Linked DNA regions of Homo sapiens. The protein of the gene in region 1 binds, or shares a complex with, the protein of each later gene. Each region holds a gene or a part of one and is shown on either strand. Other genes may lie near its edges. The genes, in order: BRPF3 and KAT6A.

Region 1 (10,010 bases):
GGAGGATCGCTTGAGCTTGGGAGGTTGAGGCTGCAGTGAGCTGTGATCACACCACTGCATTCCAGCCTGTGCAACAGAGCAAGACCTCATCTCAAAAAACAAAAACAAACACTAGCAAAATTCTAAAATAAACCTGGCTTCCAGTGTTTTGCAATGTGATTGGGGGAAGAGGCAGGACCACTAAGAATTTTGATCTATGAAACATTTATTTCAACTAAAAGGATGGACTGACTAGAAATGTTTTCATGAAATTTTCTCTTAGCCCCCTTCTGCACCACCAGATTCCAGCAATTTGTACCAGATTTCCCCTCCCTCATCAGTCTAGGGAAGAACATGTGATGGTGATGATTGGGGCTCGGGGGAGCATCTTATTATTTAGTATGCAGAGATTCCCTTTAATTTCCGTTTTCAGTATGACACTTCATCGCTGTCTTCATTGGTTCCTGGTGGCCCCAAGTCTAGAACTTCTTTAGTTCAATTTCTTGAGATAGTAAATCTCACCTGCTGTTGTTTTCCCTCATTCTCTTTGTTCTTGTGGATTTCATTGTCTTGTGGATTTTTTTATCCTTTACTAACATTATTGAAGTTAGGGGAGGGAGTGGGGACCAATGCATGTTGTCAAGCCAGACATTATTTTAACCATGCAATCATTAAACTTTTCCAGAAATGTCCCACTCATTGTGGACTACTCTTTCTACAATGTACAATGTAAATTGTAAATTGAATTTAAATTTGCCATCATTTCATTGTTTTCTATTTGTTTCACCTTTACTATATTTCCTTTTCTTTCCTTGACTTCTTTTAGGTTGGTCGAATTTTTTATTCTTTTTTTACTCTGTACTAGTTTGTGAGTTACATCCTCATTTTTTCATTCTTTTAATGTTAATGATTAGTCTAAAAATTGCAACAGGTATGCTTTATCAACTTAATTGTGGTAAAATTTATGTAAAATAAAAGACAGCTACTCTGTACAGTTTAAGTTTTGGCAAATGTATATATACCTGTTTCTCCACCACTGCCATCAACTTACAGAATGTTTCTATCACTCCAAAAAGTTTCCTCATGCCCTTTATAGTCCCTCCTCCCCTTCACATCCAGGAAGCCACCAATCTGCTATCATTATAGAGCAGTTTGCATTTTCCAGAATTTCATATAAATGGAAACATGTATTTTATTATTATAGGTATTCTGGAGTAATCAAAAGCTAATATTAATCCTTTAACTTTACCTTTTTCTCAGAGTATTTTAATCCTGGAATTCTCTAAAATCCTCTAATTCACTGTTTCTCAACTTTAATATGCATATAAATTACTTATGGAAATCTTGTCAAAATGCAGGTTCTAGTTTAGTATGTGCTATTATTTTTGTGTATTTTCTCTCCCTTTAGTAAAATTATGCCAAGAAGATGGCTACTTTTAGGGTTGGTACTTCTGCTAAAATATGGAATTATATTTTATAGTGTCCTGGCTTCACTCACAGTTAAGAGTTTAGGATTTAATAGAAATCCTAATTAAAGGTTGAAAAGATAAGACATTAGATCAAGTTGAACAATTTATACTTGTCACATACTACTTGCTTTCATGCTTGCTTGGTTTAGCATTCCACTGAGTATATGGTAAAATGTTCTAGCTAGAATTCAAGTTCAGAAGATAATGCAAGCCACACTGGATAGCTAATTTAAACCATACCGTATCACACTCTCTTGCCTGACTAGAACTTAAAGCATGGAACTATTGAAGTCATTTCCCTGTTCCAAAAATCATCAGGGTCTCCTGCCCCTTCATGTCTAGCTCCCTACCCAACCAACAGTCTCCATGCTCTGACTTTACCTTACCAGCCTTCTCTCTCATATCCCTCATTTTTGGGTCAATGGGTAACCCACTGTTTCCTGAAACAATCTTATGGCATTCCATGTGTTAAAGAAAAGACAGCAGACCCCAAATGGAGTCATTCATGCTGAGAGGTTCCATGACACCAAACCAAAACCTGTATTTTACTGTAAGATCTGACTCTTCAAGAAATCAGGAGAGAGATGATAGTCAAATCCCATTAAACCAACAAGATTTCATTTACATTCCTATAAAGAAAAATAATCTTGAAAAGACCAATCTGCTATTTGCTCATTGTTCCTGATTTATTTCACTTCTTTCTGCCTATAAAACTCACCTACTTGTTTAGCTCATAGGAACTCCTTTCTATTTTGTAGACTGGATGTTGCCCAGTTCATAAACAGCTAATAAAGCCAATTGGATCTTTGGGACTCATTTGTTGAAATTTTATTCTTTGATACGTTCTTCCTCTTTGCTCATGCGGGTGGCTCAGCCTGGACCACACTCCCTCTACCATCTTTCTAGCTGACACACCTACCTGAGAGCTTTCAGGTAGAGCTCAGATAGCACTTTCTTCACAGAGCCTTCCCTCTTCTCCTAAACAGACGAGCTCACTCCCTCCTCCAAACTTTGGCACTTCGTTTGCATCTCTCTTGAAGTGCTTATATTGTAGCACGTTCCAGTTATAAATACCCTTGCTTTATACTGTGATTAGAATCTAAATGCCTTCAAGTCTGCAAGCATACTCTTTTCACCTTTGTGGCCTTTACAGCCATAAAATAGAACCTTACCAGCAGCTCACAAATAGTAATTGAATAAATATGTATTTCAGTGTGACCAAAAGAGGTTCCAGAGAACTTGAGCTGATTTCATCATTTCTTCAATCCTCAGGTTCCCACCTCCAATAGGAGCTCCCGAGCAACCCTTTGCCACCTCTTAATTTGCAATGATTGTACCAAACTGTGAGAACCTACAAAGTTTGAACTTAGATTCTTCTTCAATCTTCTCCTTTGTTCTTATGTCCAATCAGACAAAACAGTTGCTTTGTCATCTGATTTCTGATTTGACCTTTCCTTTTCCTCTTTCTCTAACACATTTTCCATCATTCTGCTTAATGCCTTTTTATTTTCATAATGCCTAATTACCTATAGTAAACTCTTCCAGGTTTACCGGATCTCCTGTTCTACTTTCTCCAATACATAAAGAGGATAACAGTAACATTTTATAGAGTTAGTAAGTTGATAAATAAGATATGGTGTGCATATTGGACCTAGTTTGTACATGTACCTACTACCCCATTGTACAATCTTCTCCTGCTCATGTCCTCTGGTTTTAGGAGTTGATACATGACAAGCAGCATGTCCCTCTGGCCACAGTTATTGGCTCAGGATGGCTGAGAAATTGCAAGATACAGTATGCTGATGACATAATTCGAGTCCTTTGACTCGATCTTGTCTATAGCTAGATGCACCCCTGGACTTTCTGGTTATGAGAGTTTATTTCCTTTATTAAACTCACTTAAGTTGGTTTTCTGCTAACTGCAACAAAGATCTTTAATAAATGGAGTATATAAAGCACTAAGCACAGTACCTTGTACATAAGTGTTAGGTATTATTTTTATTATCCCTGTCCCCTTGCCATACCTCCTACCCAATTCAATCTTTTTCTTATCATCTGCCCATACATACCAGCTAGGATAATTTCCGCATTATTCCCTGCATATTTTCCCTTTGCCTGGACTGTCCTGTCACCAACCCAATGTCACTTTACACTCTTTTCACCAGTTCACATCCATCATGATTTAGAACTTGGCTTAAAGAAGTCTCCCATTCTCCAAGAAGCCTTCTTTGAATAATGGTGGCTCCATACTCTTCACTGCCTTATCTATTTTTTCTTGTATGTGTTTTCTACTTATTTCTACCATTCTGGATTGCACACTACTCAAGGCAAGAAAAAATATATTCTATCTATACTTATGATCATTAGTCCCTTTCTAGGTTGAGATTTTGTCATTATTTTCCAAAGAACTTGTGCAGTATTAGACACACTCTAAGTGGTCAATGAATACGTTTTAGAAATACATAAATGGAATTAAATCTAGAGAGTGTGGTATGTTACTCTATTTAAGACCTGTTGTTAACCTAGCTAAACTTTTCCCATTTTCCAAGCAAACTTTACATTCTTAAACCATTTTAATTAGTGTAAAAGTATCGGCCGGGCGCGGTGGCTCACGCCTGTAATCCCAGCACTTTGGGAGGCCGAGGCGGGCGGATCACGAGGTCAGGAGATCGAGACCATCCCGGCTAAAACGGTGAAACCCCGTCTCTACTAAAAATACAAAAAATTAGCTGGGCGTAGTGGCGGGCGCCTGTAGTCCCAGCTACTTGGGAGGCTGAGGCAGGAGAATGGCTTGAACCCGGGAGGCGGAGCTTGCAGTGAGCCGAGATCCCGCCACTGCACTCCAGCCTGGGCGACAGAGCAAGACTCCGTCTCAAAAAAAAAAAAAAAAAAAAAAAAAGTATCACAATGATTCCAACCTCAAACATTCCTCCCAACTGTGGTTTCAGAATTCTTTTAGTCAAGTATCTAAGGAAGGAATATTCTATTAAAAATAATTTAACAATCAATCAAGGCCTATTTTTTTCCTTATCATCCACGTTATTAATCCAGTGGGTACTGCGTCTGACCCCTGAGAGGTTTCTTGGCCTGATAAACTAATGACAATAGTGAAGCATTAACAAAGATATCCTGAGATGCTGAAAAAAAGTATGATGGGGAAGTATGAAAGAAAGAGGTGGGGAAATGGTGATTTTTTTTTGTATTCATGTTTCTTTTAGTTTTAAATGGTAAAACCTTCTCCTATCCCAAATAAGTTGGTTTCTACTTACAGCTGGAAGGTTCTTAAAAACAACTATTTGGAATCAAAGATCCATGCCTCTGTTTGTTGAATTTAATTGCTGTATGGTTTATTGGAAAGGCCAGGGGTGGTGAATTTAAACCGTTTAAAATAGCAAACGATTAAAGTGAATTAAATTTAGTGCCTCTGAGATTTTTGATATATGTTCCAAATTTGTTTTTAATAACATAATTGTTCCATGTTACATTTAAGATTCCATCACAGGGAACTGGTTACGTGTGCAGTTATGCTTGTAGAAACCAATTCCAAATGTCAAAAATTAAAGTGAGGGCAACTGTAATGATATCATTAAAAAAGTAGAAGTTGAAAATGGAAGAGAAACACTTAGGTTGAATAAGGTCTTAATATGAAAGCTTTGAATAGAAAAACCTGAAAAAAATCACATGCATTAGGTTGACTTAAGGCCTTTTCAACAGCATTTAAATCGTTGACTTACAAGTAGAAACCAATGCATTTTCTCAAGGTATTTATTCATTCATTTTAGTGGAAAAAGATAGCTCCTGATCACGCAAATGGGAATTGTGCTAAATAAATTTTGAGAACATCCATCAAGAAATAAAAGTTACTAGTCATATGTATAAATGATTATTATATTTCATGTTTTAATAGTTTCTGTTAGTTTTCAGACTTTTTTTTTCTTAACTACAAGTACTGTAATTGCAATATTTTCTTGCCTCTGGGGCTTTCTCTTCCACAATTAATCATCTTTTTCTTCCACACCTTCCCTCCAAATGATTATTCCCCCTAGCTTCAGAACACTTGACATTAATTCATACTATTTCATCTTCACAGCTTTCAAAACATTGTCCTGCCCTTGCTTAGCTCCACGAGCCACCCCCCTTGCATTTAAAAAATTGGTTAACAGAAGCATTTTTGTACTATCTCTTTGCCAGAAGATGCTATTTACTTGGAAACAAATTAGCTTCCTTAATCAAACTTTTGAATTTGAAACTCTCTATATTTAAATTCCTTAGTATAACATCTATACTTCCAAAGTAGCAGTATGTTCACTTTAAACATTCAGAAAATTTGGATCCTAAGACTTTATCCTTCATCCTTCTGACTCTAGAATACATGTCCTTGATCATCAGAACCAAGAAAGAAATTGAGTCTCACCAGCTACACCACAAGTGCCAGCAGAGGAAACACTTTCAAACTGTCACTCACCTTCACATTTACAGGCAGCTTATCCATACGTCCTTTATAAACATCATTATGTATTGGTGCTTAAGACTTCAGTCACATGAGGTAAGCTTTCCAGTTTACAGGCAAAAGGGGGTGGCAATGGAGCCCTTTTCTTTATTTTTTTGTTTTTTTAGATCAAAACAAAAGCCAGTTTGGTCTGATGCTGCCATTTGTCAAGCATCTTTTAGAAAGCCGCCTAATGCATTAAATTAACCAAGTCAGGTTTAAAGTGTTTCCCATGCCCACAGTGACAGACGAGTTACCAGGCATGCTTAAGCAGACTGTCAAACTTTTGTTTACTCCTTTTAAACGGAAAGTCAGATTTTTTTTTTTTTTTTTTAAAAGATGTGTGGTGCGGAACAAGACGCTCACCTGTACACAACAAAGGCAGGTCTTTCCCGGCTGTCCTCACTGGGGGAGGGGATGGACAATCGCTAGACCTTTGTCCTCAGGTCCTGGGCATGGGGGTTAGGGGAGACGCGACTTTCTGGGAGTCGTGCAGGCACCTGCAGTCAAGAAACTACATATTGGTTTTGACCTCAATGACTGCCCTGGCTTAACCTTTGGAGAGGCCCTTTAGTTCGGGGAGGGGGCTTGCTGCTCCAAACCGTAGCCACGTCACCCACAAGGACTGGGGAGGAAATGACTGACCGCTCAAGAGTCAGGGACCCCTGTCTCTCCCAACTAGACCCGAACGTCCACAGCCCTCTTATCGGGCTCGCCCCGTGGCGGGCAGGGCCGTGGTGCGCAGGGATCGCGGCGGGCGCAGACCCGGTCTCTTGCTCGGTGTCCCCGCCGCGCCCGCACCGCCACCGTGAGGCCGAGCCGGGGATGGTGCCCCGTGGCGGCGGCGGCGGCGCCTCCGCGCTCCTCTCCGCACCGCCCCGGCCGCCGCCGCGCCAGGCACGGGCGGGGGGATTTTTTTCCCGTTTCCCCCTCTTTCGCGCTCTCGCTCCTGTTCAGCGGGAGAGCCCGCAGAGTCAGGGAGGGAGCGAGGGAAGGGGTGGAGGTGGCGGGGGGAGGCCGGAGGGGCGGATCCTGCCTGGGGGCTGATCCCTCCCTCCCCTCGGCCGGGCTCCGTGGCGGCAGCGGCAGCAGCGGCGGCTCCATTCCCCCTCCTCCCCCGGGAGCGGCGGCGGCGGCCGGGCCGGGGCCCCAGCGCGGGCCGGGAGGGGGCACGGCGGAGGCCACGGAGGCAGGCGCGGGAGAAGACCGCGCTCCGCTTCCCGGGCCGCGCCGACCTGCTCGGCGGCCTGCCCGCCCGCGCCCAGGGGCCCCGAACGGTGGGGCCGGGCAGGCGGCTGAGGTAATGGGGGCGGCAGCGGGGCCGGACAGAGCGGGGGCGGGGGCATCGGGGCCTTCGGGGACCAGGGACTGCACGGGGGGAAACCGGAGAAGCGGGGGGCTTTCCGAGCAGGGCGGGGGCGGTGCGAAAGCTCTCTCCTGGAGCGAGGGCGGCGGCAGGGAAGGAGAAGGCGGGTGAGCGGGGGAGCTGAGAAGCGAGGACCCCCTCCCGCAGCCGCCATCTTGTCTCCCCCCCCAGCCCTGGATTCCGAGCCGCTAAGCCCCGCCCCCGCCACGCCTTCCAATTGGCCTGGCCAGACGAGAGTCCCGCCCCTTGAGCGGCCCTAGGTCCCCTGGGTCCCTCTGACGGGCAGGTGACGCAGCCAATGGGTTCTCGCCTCTCCGCCCCGCTCATTCGCTGGCGCTCGCTTTCTCTGTCTGAGGGTCGGACTCCACGTCAGGCTGTCTCTGGTGCGCTCGCCCCTCCCCTCTGAGGAGATGTTATTTCCCTCCTTTCTTCTCCGAGGGGTCAAGATTCTTCTGGAAGAGGTGCCCCCTTAAAGGAGCAGGAGCCTTGGCTGGGGTCCTCCTTGTCTCCTGAGTATCTTGTGTGAGGTGCAGGGGATACAGTCTAATTGCAGAAGCTCCTCATTCTTCGGGGACCTGGATGGGGTGGGTGAGCGAGGGGTCAGGGGGTGCCGAGGGGAAATCTGGGGGGGCGGGGGTTGTTGGAGATATTTTGGAGGTGTGTATGTGGGAAGGGCTGTGTAGGTTGAGAAACTCCCGCCAAAAAACTCGTCTAGACTGTAAGCTCCTTGTGGGCGAAACTCTTTTCATTTCCCTCATCAGCAGTCCCTTCCCCCTCTAGAGTTTCTCCCCGGTGTCTGGAGGCGTGGGTGGGACAAAACACGTCTGTGTAGAGTCTTGCATGGTCGAGAGATGCTTGAGCAGCCGAGGAGGTGGCAGGTGGGGAAGGAGAAGATGGAGCGGCTTTCATGAAAGTGGGCGCCGCACCGCCTGTCTGCGCTGTTTGGGGTCGGTGTGGAGGCAGATGTTCTCACCTCTTCTAGGGCCTCGGTGCCTTTGGAGGGGTGGGTGATGAAGCAGGTCTGTTGGCCCTGTCTGCCCCCAGGGACTTGGCATTTGTAAGGAATCCAGTAGCCAAGGGCCTCTGGAACCCGGACAGAATTGCTGCGATGATTCTGTTTCCTTTGGCTCCAAATGGGGTGTGTGCCAGCCCGCCTGGCACTGCTCCTCAGCCAAATTGGTTTTTTGTTTGTTTCAGTCACACTTTGGGATTGGAAGGCCTTTCAAGTAAAGATGTTAATAATACCTTATTAACAAGTAGCACCTAGAGAGCTAGATTGTGTTACCCTCATTTTACTGATGGAGTATGGAGGCATAGAGAGCTTAAGGGACTTTCTCTAGGTCACAGAGGGCCAAGATTAGAACCTAGATTGCCCCAGAGCCTCGTTTTGTACCAGACCATAGCACCTCTGTGGTGTTCTTAATTCCCACTGAGAGGAATTGAGCATCGGAAGACCTGGGTTCAAATTGTAGCGTTATCACTTACTAGCTTTACGTTGAGTGACATCTTTCTGAGCTTCTGTGTAGATGATAATAGCTACACCATCTCCTAAGGTAGTTGTGAGAAATATTAAAAGTAAGAGGGCTTTGTAGTTTGGAAAAAGTGCTTTTATTATCACCGTCTCTACTTTATATAGATGGTAGACCCTGCAACCAAGGCGATGAATTGTTTTTCTCTTTGAAATCTTCTCTTTGTTCATATCCTTCCAAGTCTGCCCACACCATGGGGCCCTGTATCCCCAAAGGTCTCTCCTGGTGGTGACAGCCTTGGTAACTGCCTACCGCAGCTCCTTATGAGCTTGTCATCCAGAGAATGATGGGGGAAACTAGGACTTTCTCTTGGCTGTACAAGGATAGACTAGATATGAGTGTTCTGGGAGAGACTTTTGAGGTAACAGAATGCATTGAGAGTTTACCTCAGATACTGCCCAGATCATCTTGGCCTTCGGTCGAATGAAGGTCCTAGACAGGCCACTATAACTTCAGAGATCTCTTGGAGCCACTCTCAGAGCTTCTAGGGTTTGTTTCTGCCTGGAAATGTACTAGTTGGTGTATCCTGGATCAGGGGTTCCCAACCCCCAGGCCGCAGACTGTGGCCTGTTAAGAACCAGGCCATACAGCAAGAGGTGAGTGGCGGGCAAGCGAGCATTACCACCTGAGCTCTGCCTCCTGTCAGATCAGCGGCTGCTTTGGATTCTCATAGGAGCGCGAACCCTACTGTGAACTGCGCATGTGAGGGATCTAGGTTGCATGCTCCTTATGAGAATCTGACTAATGCCTGATGATCTGAGGTGGAACAGTGTTCACCACCCACCCTCATCTGTGGAAAAATTGTCTTCCACGAAACCAGTCCCTGGTGCCAAAAAGGCTGGGGACTGCTGTCCTGGATGGTGTCTTTTGTAGGGAATACCCTGCATACTGTAGTTTGAAGCCCTTAGACCATGTATCATAGATATTTCAGATGCCTTCACCCCTTCACCTCTAGGCAGGGTCAAGGAGTAGGGTTTCTGATCGTGGTAAGAGGTATTGGGAGAAGACTCTAGTGACTTTTGATCCTCTGATGGGGCCCATTGTTCACGTACAGAGCTTGACAGTGGATGCTTTTCTTGTTTTCTTTTCTAAACCGTTAACTACATGTGTTTTCCATAGTTAGCTGTCGCCCAGCTTTATGTACATCATTAGAACATTAGATCTTTCCCCATGTTACA
Region 2 (9,780 bases), on another chromosome or scaffold:
TGCCTGAGCTGTGATTTGGATAATCTGAAATAATAATTTTCACCTAAAGAGCTGGAACTGTGAGGCTGCCAAGACTGGTGTTTAGGGAGTTCATACAGGTGTCACCATGCTACAAAGGAAGCCAGGCACCACCTAAAGTGCCCAGAAAGGCTTTAAAAGAATGTGATTCCTGGTGCTCTAGTTTCTGAAAGTTCGACGACAGGTTGGTGGACTAGGGTTCTCAGTATCACACACATTGAGTGTGTCATCCTCCCCAATCTACTGTCAGCAGGAGGTGGAGAGACAACAAAGAAATAGGAGCACCTCCCCTACTCCGAACAACTCATTTGTTCCTTGGCTATACATGGGATTATATAATTCAAATAATACTTAAATGCAATATAAATATATTTATGTATGTTTTTTGAAAGTCTAGAATAGTCTTTGGCCACATTATCTCTTATATTGAAAAAACATAATTGGTTTATGTTGAAATCACTTAAAGCAAATACTCTTCAGTGGCAAAGGCAAGAATGTTTTCAAGACAATCCACTAGTAATTGCATAGCACAGTGACACAGCCTGTGTCCAAATAATGGTTATATAAGCCAGCCAAGAAATCAACGGACATACATCATTCCTTTTGAGATGACATGACTATACTGTCTAAACTTTAAACAGCATGAAATTCAGAACAAATGTCTGCTATAGGTAGTATCATGTACAGTTCCTCAATTCCTCAGTGTGAAGGGGCAGAGGAAGTGTGGAGGCCGCTAAAACTTGAACCTGCCTCACTGCCTACCACCAGAAACTAAGGCCAATTTCCCAAAGTGAAATCAAATTTTCTGGACTCTGCCTCCTGTCCACAATTCTAAATGATGAGAGGCAAACACAACCCAAGAGACCACCAAAAAGTAATCAGCATTCAGGGCCTTGAATTCTGGCAAAAGGAGAATGACGAATCTTCCTAGATTACCCAATTAGGTAAAATGAAATGAAAAAAAACCCACAACGCTTTTAAAAATACTGTTACATTATAAAATAAGATCTATAAAAATTACTCCTCCCATTTATCACAAGTCTAGGAGCTACTTGTTATTGCAATTGCTTTTTTTTAGGGGAGTGGGGGGGACGGGAATTAAAATCCCTTTAGGAGGTTTTTATATGAATGCCCCTACAAAATCCAAAGTAGGGTTACCGTGCCATGTTCCTTGGAAATGGAAAACCCATCCATATTGTTGGCATTTAAACACAGACATAAATGAAAACTGGAATTTCAAAGCAAAGGCCATGGACTTGTACTCCTATAATAAAGAGGAAAATGAAAAGACTAATGTTTATAGGTCTCTGGGTGTAGAACAAGAATTGAAGAGTTCTGACATACTGGGAAGGGAGAAAAATTCCACATGCAAGACAGACATCCAAAATGGCTCAACATAATTTATTTTTTATGTTAAAATGTACAGAGTTCTTTTGAAAGTACTTGCTAGAAAGGGGAAAAAAAGGTATTACATACAAGGAGAGGAAGGGAGGCCGGCTGGCCCAGGAGCGCGTGACATGGAGAGATACAAAGGCATCTAGGCACCCCTTCCCCTTAGCTTACAAGTCACCATGAACAAAGTACAAAGAGGTTACAAAACAGGAAAAGCAAATATAAACAGACAGGATAGACGTGGCTTCCTTTGTACATGCGGCTTTTAGAGGCATCTGGAGCTCTATTCACACACGCTAGAGATCTCTTTAAAGAGAATTTATCTTTCTTAAAATAGTTTTTAATATTCTACAACAAAGATAAAAAATTTTAAAGATGGAATGAAATGAAAAAGCTCTTATTTTAAAAGGCATCAAAGTCACTAACAGTGAGTTTTTAAATTTCTTTTTTAGAAGATTACCCAAGTTATCTTGCTAAAAATACATTTTTTTTAAACAGAAGTGAAAAAATGACAGGTACCAATATTACTGTGTTGGATAATTTCTTTTATAATATAGAAAAGAACTTTTTTTTTCTACAATAGTTCTACAGTCACAAAGAGGCTTGTGGAAAAGGGAGCTGCCCGATTGAATTTTTTATAAAGAAACAAACAAAACCAAACACAACCGCAAACCAACAGAAACTGATTTCACGGCCCTCATTTCAACAGCTTCTCCTTCTGCCTTGACCCACCCTCCTCCCAATATACCTCCCTCCCGACCCACCCCGTCCCCACCCCAACCAGGAAGCAATGACACAGCTGAAGATGTAGGGCGATGGCAGCACAGTGCACTTTCTACATAGATGACTGGGAACTGGAATAGTATATACAGAGAAACTGGGTCCTACACAGCCTTGCACATGCTCAGAGCTGAGAGCGGGAAGATGTGGAATTCTGCGTTTCTACCTAGCACGCTTGAGAAAGTCAATTAAAGTGTATTAAAAAAACCAACAAACCTGTGCATTTGAAAAAAGTTAATGCCTAATTAGTACTTTAAAAATTTATCTATATAAAATGTACAAATAAAGGAGAGAATTTAATGCTTACAGATATTTCTCTAAGCAGTACTTCCCCCTTTTGGATATTTGACTGCACATACCAAGTGGTATAATAGTTTCCATCTTCTAATGATGGAATATATATATATATATATGTGTGTGTGTGTGTGTGTGTGTGTGTGTATATATATATATATATATTTTTTTTTTTTTTTTTTTTTTTTTTACCTATCCCTGGAGCAAGTAATAGGAAGAGAATGGGCAAACTGGTTGCACGAGAGAAAAGAGAATGGAGTTGGGAGCAACACATGAACTTGCGTTATAACATTCTGCTGTCCAGATCTGCCCTACTGTGCTGGTGGTCGGTCTGTCCCTCTTCTCATTAGCCACTCACAGGAGAGGTGCTTGTGCACTCTGATTCACAGGGGATGAACTCAGGATCTCAAAAGACATACAAAAACTAGAGGTATGTATCACTTAAATAGCTACGAAACTCACACCGTGATCTCCCTTCTGACACACATCTGCGCCATCTCTTCCAACATAAAATAAACTGTTTCAATGGTTTGTCAGTTATTTTTCAAATCACTAAAATGTACAGTCATCCACCAACAATTTAAGAAAGAACCTAAGAGGCAAATCACTGGGGACTGCTATTTGAGTTTTATCAGTCAAAGGCTCAAGCATCAAGACCCTCAGTTAGCATTTCAAAGTACATACTAGAAACAAGAGGCTGGGTGGCGTGTGTGTGCGTTATGGCTGATTCACCAGGTGGTAAAAAAACAAGAGGTTAATCTCCTCTTTTTGATTGTTAATTGACCATCTCTATTCCTCCAAAGGCTGGATTTGGATTGCAAACAGCTTTTCTCTGAGATTCTGCTGTTAATTGAGACTTACAGTATTTTTGTGTCTCTGAGTGCTGAGTGGGAATATTTTAAAAAAGAAGAAAAAAATTATATTACACTTGATTCAAGAACAACAAAGATTTCAATGAAGTCCGTCTATAAAGAAACATTCTTGGGGAAGGGTTTCAAGAGGTGTGTGTGTGTGAGGAGTGGAGGGGATTTTAAAAGGAGAAGCATTTTCCTGCCTCACTTTATTAATAATAATAATAATAATATTAACAATAATAATAAGTTTAAGGAGCTTGGGTTGTTCTCCATGTCCCCATCCGAGTCTCCCCTAAGTGCCTCCTGCTGGAATGAAGTAGGAAATGAAAGGTTGGGTTTGGAGGAAAGGGTCTGGTTAACCCTTGAGATGTATATAACATTTAAAAATGACAACATTGGGAGCTGCAAACAGTGAGGGGAAACATACATTTTAAAATAAAGATAATTCACTTTTACACAAATTCTGTCCATGTGGTATGTAAAGAAAGTAAGGCTCTTTTTAATTATGAAAAGATTTTGTGCATGTTTCCCCATCCCCAAATCCATTTTTAGATGAGTTCTACTGTAAAATGTTCAAGATTGTGAAGAAAACCAAAACCCAGAACAAAATGAACCCAAAAAAAGAGAAGATCAGGTTTTCTAAAAAATAAAATAAACCAAAGAAAAATTCCTCTAAATCTACAGCAATATTTTAACTGGAAAAAGGTCCATTTTTCTCTGGTTTGTCAGTATAAAAGGTTCCTTTATTTATATATATTTAAGTTTTTGATTGCAAGTTCATCTTGCTCATCTTCTCATGTAAGGTCCGTTGAGTGACTGCTTGGGCACGCCAGCAGCGTTCATGTAGCTGTGATGGGAGGGGCCTGTGTACATCATGTTCCCATGAGGGTTAGGCTGCATAGGCTGCTGGGTATAGGCCTGGCTCCCCATCATTCCCATCTGCATCTGCATAGGATACTGTGCTGTCTGGTTCATGTAGGCAGGGTTACTATGGTAACTGCTGTTCATCATGGGCTGTGTCATTCGATAGCTGTTCATGGCATTCAAGGTGTTCATATTCATGGAATTGACATTATAGGCGGGAGTAGGCATCAGATTAACCCCCATGTTCATGCCACGCTGAACAGCCAGTGCGCGAGGGCCAGCCTGCATGGCAACTGCCGATGGGCTACGGCCATACAGCTGCTGCTGGTGAGCAGCCGCAGAGGGCAGTGGCGCAGACTTGGAGCGGATGGAAATGTGCCCCTTCACTGGCATTTGCCCTTGCAATCTCTGCGTGTGAGGAATGCCAATGTTGGTGGCAGACATGTTGCACTGAAGCAGAGGAGATGTGAGGTTCATGGTAGTGGATGCCAAGTTTGGGGGTGGCGTCATGGTGGCTTGTGCTTGAGGAGTCCCAGCTAAGGGATGAGATGGAGCCAGCTGAGCCAGTCCTGTATTGGACAGAGAAACACTGGTTGCATAGGAAGTCACAGCAGGAGAATGGCTATAAGGCATGGCATGAGGGTCCATAATGGTGTTGGTCAGCTGCTGCAGCTTGGCTAGGCTGAAGGTGGCTGATGGTTGAGAGTAGCTGCCGGCACCAAAATCCCCTGGAATCCTCTCATAGATACTTATGTTCCCAGTGCTTCCAGATTCTGGTATCTCCATGATCATAGGAGCTGGGGTGAAACTGTTATTCATACTACACTGTGACAGCGGGGGCTGCTGCTGGGGAGGGGGTGGGGGTGGAGGCTGCTGGGGCTGAGGCTGCGGCTGCTGTTGCGGCTGCTGCTGGGGTGGTGGAGGCTGTGGTGCTGGTTGTGGTTGTGGCGGCGGCGGCTGTGGCTGCTGTGGAGGCGGTGGTGGCGGCTGCTGCTGCTGGTTACTGGGAGGCCTCTCCACCACGCAGCTCTGAGGTGACTTGATGCTGCAGTTGGCAGCAGGCTGGACGCTGCTCTGCTGCATCATGCTGCAGCTGCTGCCCATGCTGGCCATCTGCTGAGTGACCACACAGCTGCTCTGGGTGAGGCTGCTGGAGGACGACAGCCCACCGTAGGAGCAGCTGCTCTGGGAAGAGCTGTTCCCACAGATGCTGCCGCCCATCGTGGAGTCGTAACTGCTTGGGTTCTCATAGTTTTCAGTGGTGCTCTCAATGCTGCCCAGGTCACTGAAGCCGCTGTCCACCACCTGCTGAGAGTGGTCTGATACGGAAGGCACATCCATCATGGGGCTGGTCTCCATGTTCTGCATAGAGGGTGCGGACAGGGATCCTTGTTCTGGGCTGATCTGGGTGTAGCCACTCTCAAGGGCAGGCACGTTGGGACTGCTGACCGAACGGACTGACTGGCTGGGGTGAGACTGAACGGAGGAGATAGGGCTATTATGTTCTGACGCATGACAGTCTTCAACCATGGACATCTGAGGGTCCTCGTCAGCCTGGGTGTAACTCTGCAGGGTCTGACACGCCGCAAGAGTTTCCTCACAGTCCTGGTAGGCGCCCTCATGCTCACTGCTTTCTTCTTGAGTCAAAGACTGCACTGCCTGTACAGTTTCCAGATCCAGCTCACTATGAGGAATCTCTTCCTCCTCTTTTAATTCGATTAACTCTTCCTTAGTGTGGGAGTCTTCTTCGTGGTCGTCCTCAGACCCAGCCATCTGCTCTGACACCACGGACGTGTCATGGGAAGGCTGCTCCTCTTCGGAATCCAGCTCGGTTTCCTCTTTATCCTTTATCTTTTCCCTACTCTTCTGCATATTAGCATCTAAAAAAGACTCTTGAACACCAGGCTCCTCCTTGACATCTTCCCTCGTGGGCTGTTCCTCTAGCTCCTTTTTCTTTGTGGACTCCAGGTGGCCATCATCCTCATCATCAGCGTCGTGGTCGTCATTCTGGGCAGTCTCTGCAGCTGCATCTTCCTCCTCCTCTGGCTCTGGCTCCTCTAATTCCTGCTGCTCCTCCTCTGACTGCCTCTGCTCCTCTGAGACACGGGGCTTCTCTTCTTCCTCCTCCACCTCAGGCTCCTTGGTTTCGGTCTCAGGACTATTGCTGCTGTCTGCTGGAGAGGCTGCTGGGACTTCACTGCTGGCTGCATCCTCTTCCTCACCCTCTTCAGCCTCTTCTGCCTCTGCTTGCATCTCCTCCTCCTCCTTCCTCTCCTCGGGTAGGGGCATGTCTTCTTTTGGCTCAACAGTTTCTTCACTCTCCTGGATCTTGGGTTTACGTCCAGCTTTAGGAATGGAAACGATGGGCTCAATGACGCATGCTTGAGTAGAAACTGGCATGATTTCCCGACTCAACTTAAATCCTGGTTTTCGACCAGGTCTTTTCTTCCAGTGGATTGGTTTGCGGCTCTTGCCTTTGGGCCATCCCTTTTTCTTTTTCAAAGGTGTGGATGTATCTGGCTCAAGAGGAGAATTCTTCACATCACGTTTTCGCAAAAGAGATACTGGCTTTAAGATAGGAGTGTCTATACAGGAAGGAAAAAAAACAAAGACAGGTTACAAGGTCTTACATTTTCTAGTTCCTTCTTCCAAGACTAGCATATACAATAGAAATGACTTTATTAATCATTACTTTTATAAACTCCTGATTGTCTTCATTTTAAAGTTAAGAACCTAGAGGATAAAACTAATTAGTGACATATTCTAAGTCACACAGTGAATTGGCAGAACTATGAAAGAATCCTGGTCAACATTATGTTATCAGACACTAGTCAGAACCAATTCAAGACTACCATCATCAGCTGCATGTCTGTGGGAAGTTACTCTACATTTCAGTTTCATCATCTGTAAAATGGAGATGAACTTTATAAAGAGGCAAATAAGTAGTAAGCAGTACTTTTATCAAGTTGTCTCTACTAAAAGTTACAAATTAGCTTATTTCCTCTTTTTTTTTCTGCTTGTGATTTACTTTATCTCTCGGATTTTCTTACTTTCCACAAATCATCACTTCAGGTAGTATGATGAGCCAATTACTCTAGGCCATGACTGAGCCATCGTATGTGAACAGTTGTTCAATTAATGTTGTGTTTGTATGGGAATAGCTGCAAAGCATTTATTTAGTCCTAGACAAAAACTGACATTTAGACTTAGACAAACAAGAAAAAATTAAAGCACCAATTACATTCATTAGAAATAAATTTTATATTATTAGCATTTTAAAAAAACTATGGTAAACTATACGTAACATAAAACTTAAAATTTTAACCATTTATAAGTGTTAAGTTCAGTGGCATTAAGTACACTCACATTGCCTATTAATTTTTAAAGAATAAGAATACCAAGACAAGAACATGATGCAGTGGGGGCACGGCTAAAAAGGCACAGTTAGTAGTAGTAACTTGAAAGTCAACAAAGGAAATGGCTGCATCAGCAAAAATCTAAGTCCATGGGAACTTAATCAGGGGTACTATTTTAGTGTACAATGATCTAAGACAGAATATAAAGTGCTAAATTTACAAAATAAATTTTTAGTTTCCTAGTTATGTTATTTCAAAACATAGCAAGTTAAACTCTGTAGAATCATTCATGATAGAGCAAAGAACACATTCATCTTATCACTATATTAAAAGTATTTGTTGGCCAGGCAGGGTGGCTCACACCTGTAATCCCAGCACTTTGGGAGTCCAAGGCGGGTGGATCACTTGAGGTCAGGAGTTTGAGACCAGCCTGGCCAACATGGTGAAACCCCGTCTCTACTAAAAATACAAAAATTAGCCAGGCATGGTGGCGTGCACCTATAATCCCAACTACTTGGGATGCTGAGGCACGAGAATCGCTTGAACCCGGAGGTGGAGGTTGCAGTGAGCTGAGACTGTGCCACTGCACTCCCACCTGGGTGACAGAGGGAGACTCCATCTCAAAAAAATAAAAAATAAAAAATAAAAAAGTATTTGTTATATAGAAAATATGAGAATGGAGAAAATGTAAGTTTATCTTCTAGACTTGAAACTGACTGAATTTTTAAAAGAATTAAAAAGTTCAACCAGTTAATGCATAAAAGCTAAAGGTTTATGTACCAAGACTGGACAAGTAGATTTCTTCAAATTTGCCCAACAAAGTAAAAATGCTCATTCTGAGCCCATGCGAGATAAACACACTGCAGATGCAGGCAGCATGAGACACTGGCAAAACTTTAGGCTAGGGTGAAAAAGACTTGTTTCTGACCTGGCTCATATATATGAGACCTAGTTTCAGTGTCTCTAGAGAAGAAATGACAACTAGGCTGCTTTAAAAGTAAATAGTTGGATTTGTATCTATACTATAAAATTTATTTTGAGTTATTGTTACCATTTGTGAGAAATTTACTACTAGTTGGGTAAGACACATTAGAGATACAATTCAGGAAAGACTCCTGAACAGATGTGACACAAGTTCCAATTTACATGAATCTGCTCTTTCTGGAGAATTGTCTTCTTAGCATTCACTCATTTAACACTACTTACTGAGCGCCGGGCTTAAGCACTCAGCATACAGCAATGAGCAAAACAGACTAAGTCTAGAGAATGCACATTCTAGTGAAGGGTTATTACATCTTCCTGATGCTAAGTCCAACTCTCCCATTAACTAAAGATTCTGATAAAGGCTTAGAAAGGATTGGGCAAAAAAGAACAGTTGCCTAATAGTAAGATATTTTCTGCAGAGGCAAATTAATAGAGGTTCTGAGTTGAAGGGAAAACACATTTAAAAATCAAGATGGATATACTTGATACAACTTTTTAGAGATTGCCAAACGTTCCTTTTCTTGCTTAGTGGGTTGTGTTCATTTTTCAGCCTTTTTACTGAAGGGTCTGTCACTGCTACTGCTATATATCTGAAGACAATAAACCACAGTAAGTGAGTTCTGTAAAACATACCATCAGCATCATCTGACTCTTCATCTTCTTCTTCATCTTTAGACTTCCTCTTAGAAGAGGACTGACACCTGAGTACATCCTGCGAAGACAAACGACGGAAGTATTCTCTAGGGAAAAGTTCATTTTCATCCTCTTCCTCCTCTTCTTCATCGATCTCAAACGTGGGTTCTAATCTTGGCATTGGCCTCTCGGAGTCAGAATCTTCAAAAGGTTCATCTAACACTTCAGTGGTCTCAGAAATAGTTTCTGTGACTACACTGCTATTGTGGTGTTTGCGCTTTCGGACTCTCCTCCTTCGGTGGAGAAATGGTTTCTGTTTAATAGAGAAAGCAAGTATTTACAGTTATGAACACTATCTTTTCTATTAATAATACGAAAACAGTTTTAAAACCAAATAGAATTAGCACATATAAAATGAGGATGTTGTTTGCCAAAAAATATTTTGAATATTATTTCAAAATACTATAGTAAGATAATACACTTATTATAAATACAAAGGTATTAGGCAATTGAACACAACTTTGTAAAAGAATAGGCAGCCATCTCCAAATAGCAGACATTATAATTCTCTTAATAGTTCAGTTAAATTTAGCACCCTAGAGAGT

Evidence for each region.
Region 2: BRPF3 (region 1) and KAT6A share a complex: the UniProt entries of both Homo sapiens proteins name them as parts of the MOZ/MORF complex.

Annotation. Positions count from the first base shown.
Region 1 is NC_000006.12:36,189,734-36,199,743, forward strand, and holds the start of BRPF3 (bromodomain and PHD finger-containing protein 3), read left to right. Parts: upstream 1-7,010; 5' UTR 7,011-7,237; exon of another isoform or gene 7,238-7,470; intron 7,471-7,651; exon of another isoform or gene 7,652-7,686; intron 7,687-10,010. UniProt on the Homo sapiens protein: Scaffold subunit of various histone acetyltransferase (HAT) complexes, such as the MOZ/MORF and HBO1 complexes, which have a histone H3 acetyltransferase activity.
Region 2 is NC_000008.11:41,928,081-41,937,860, forward strand, and holds the end of KAT6A (histone acetyltransferase KAT6A), read right to left. Parts: intron 9,489-9,780; coding exon 9,176-9,488; intron 6,788-9,175; coding exon 4,125-6,787; 3' UTR 1,399-4,124; downstream 1-1,398. UniProt on the Homo sapiens protein: Histone acetyltransferase that acetylates lysine residues in histone H3 and histone H4 (in vitro). Component of the MOZ/MORF complex which has a histone H3 acetyltransferase activity. May act as a transcriptional coactivator for RUNX1 and RUNX2.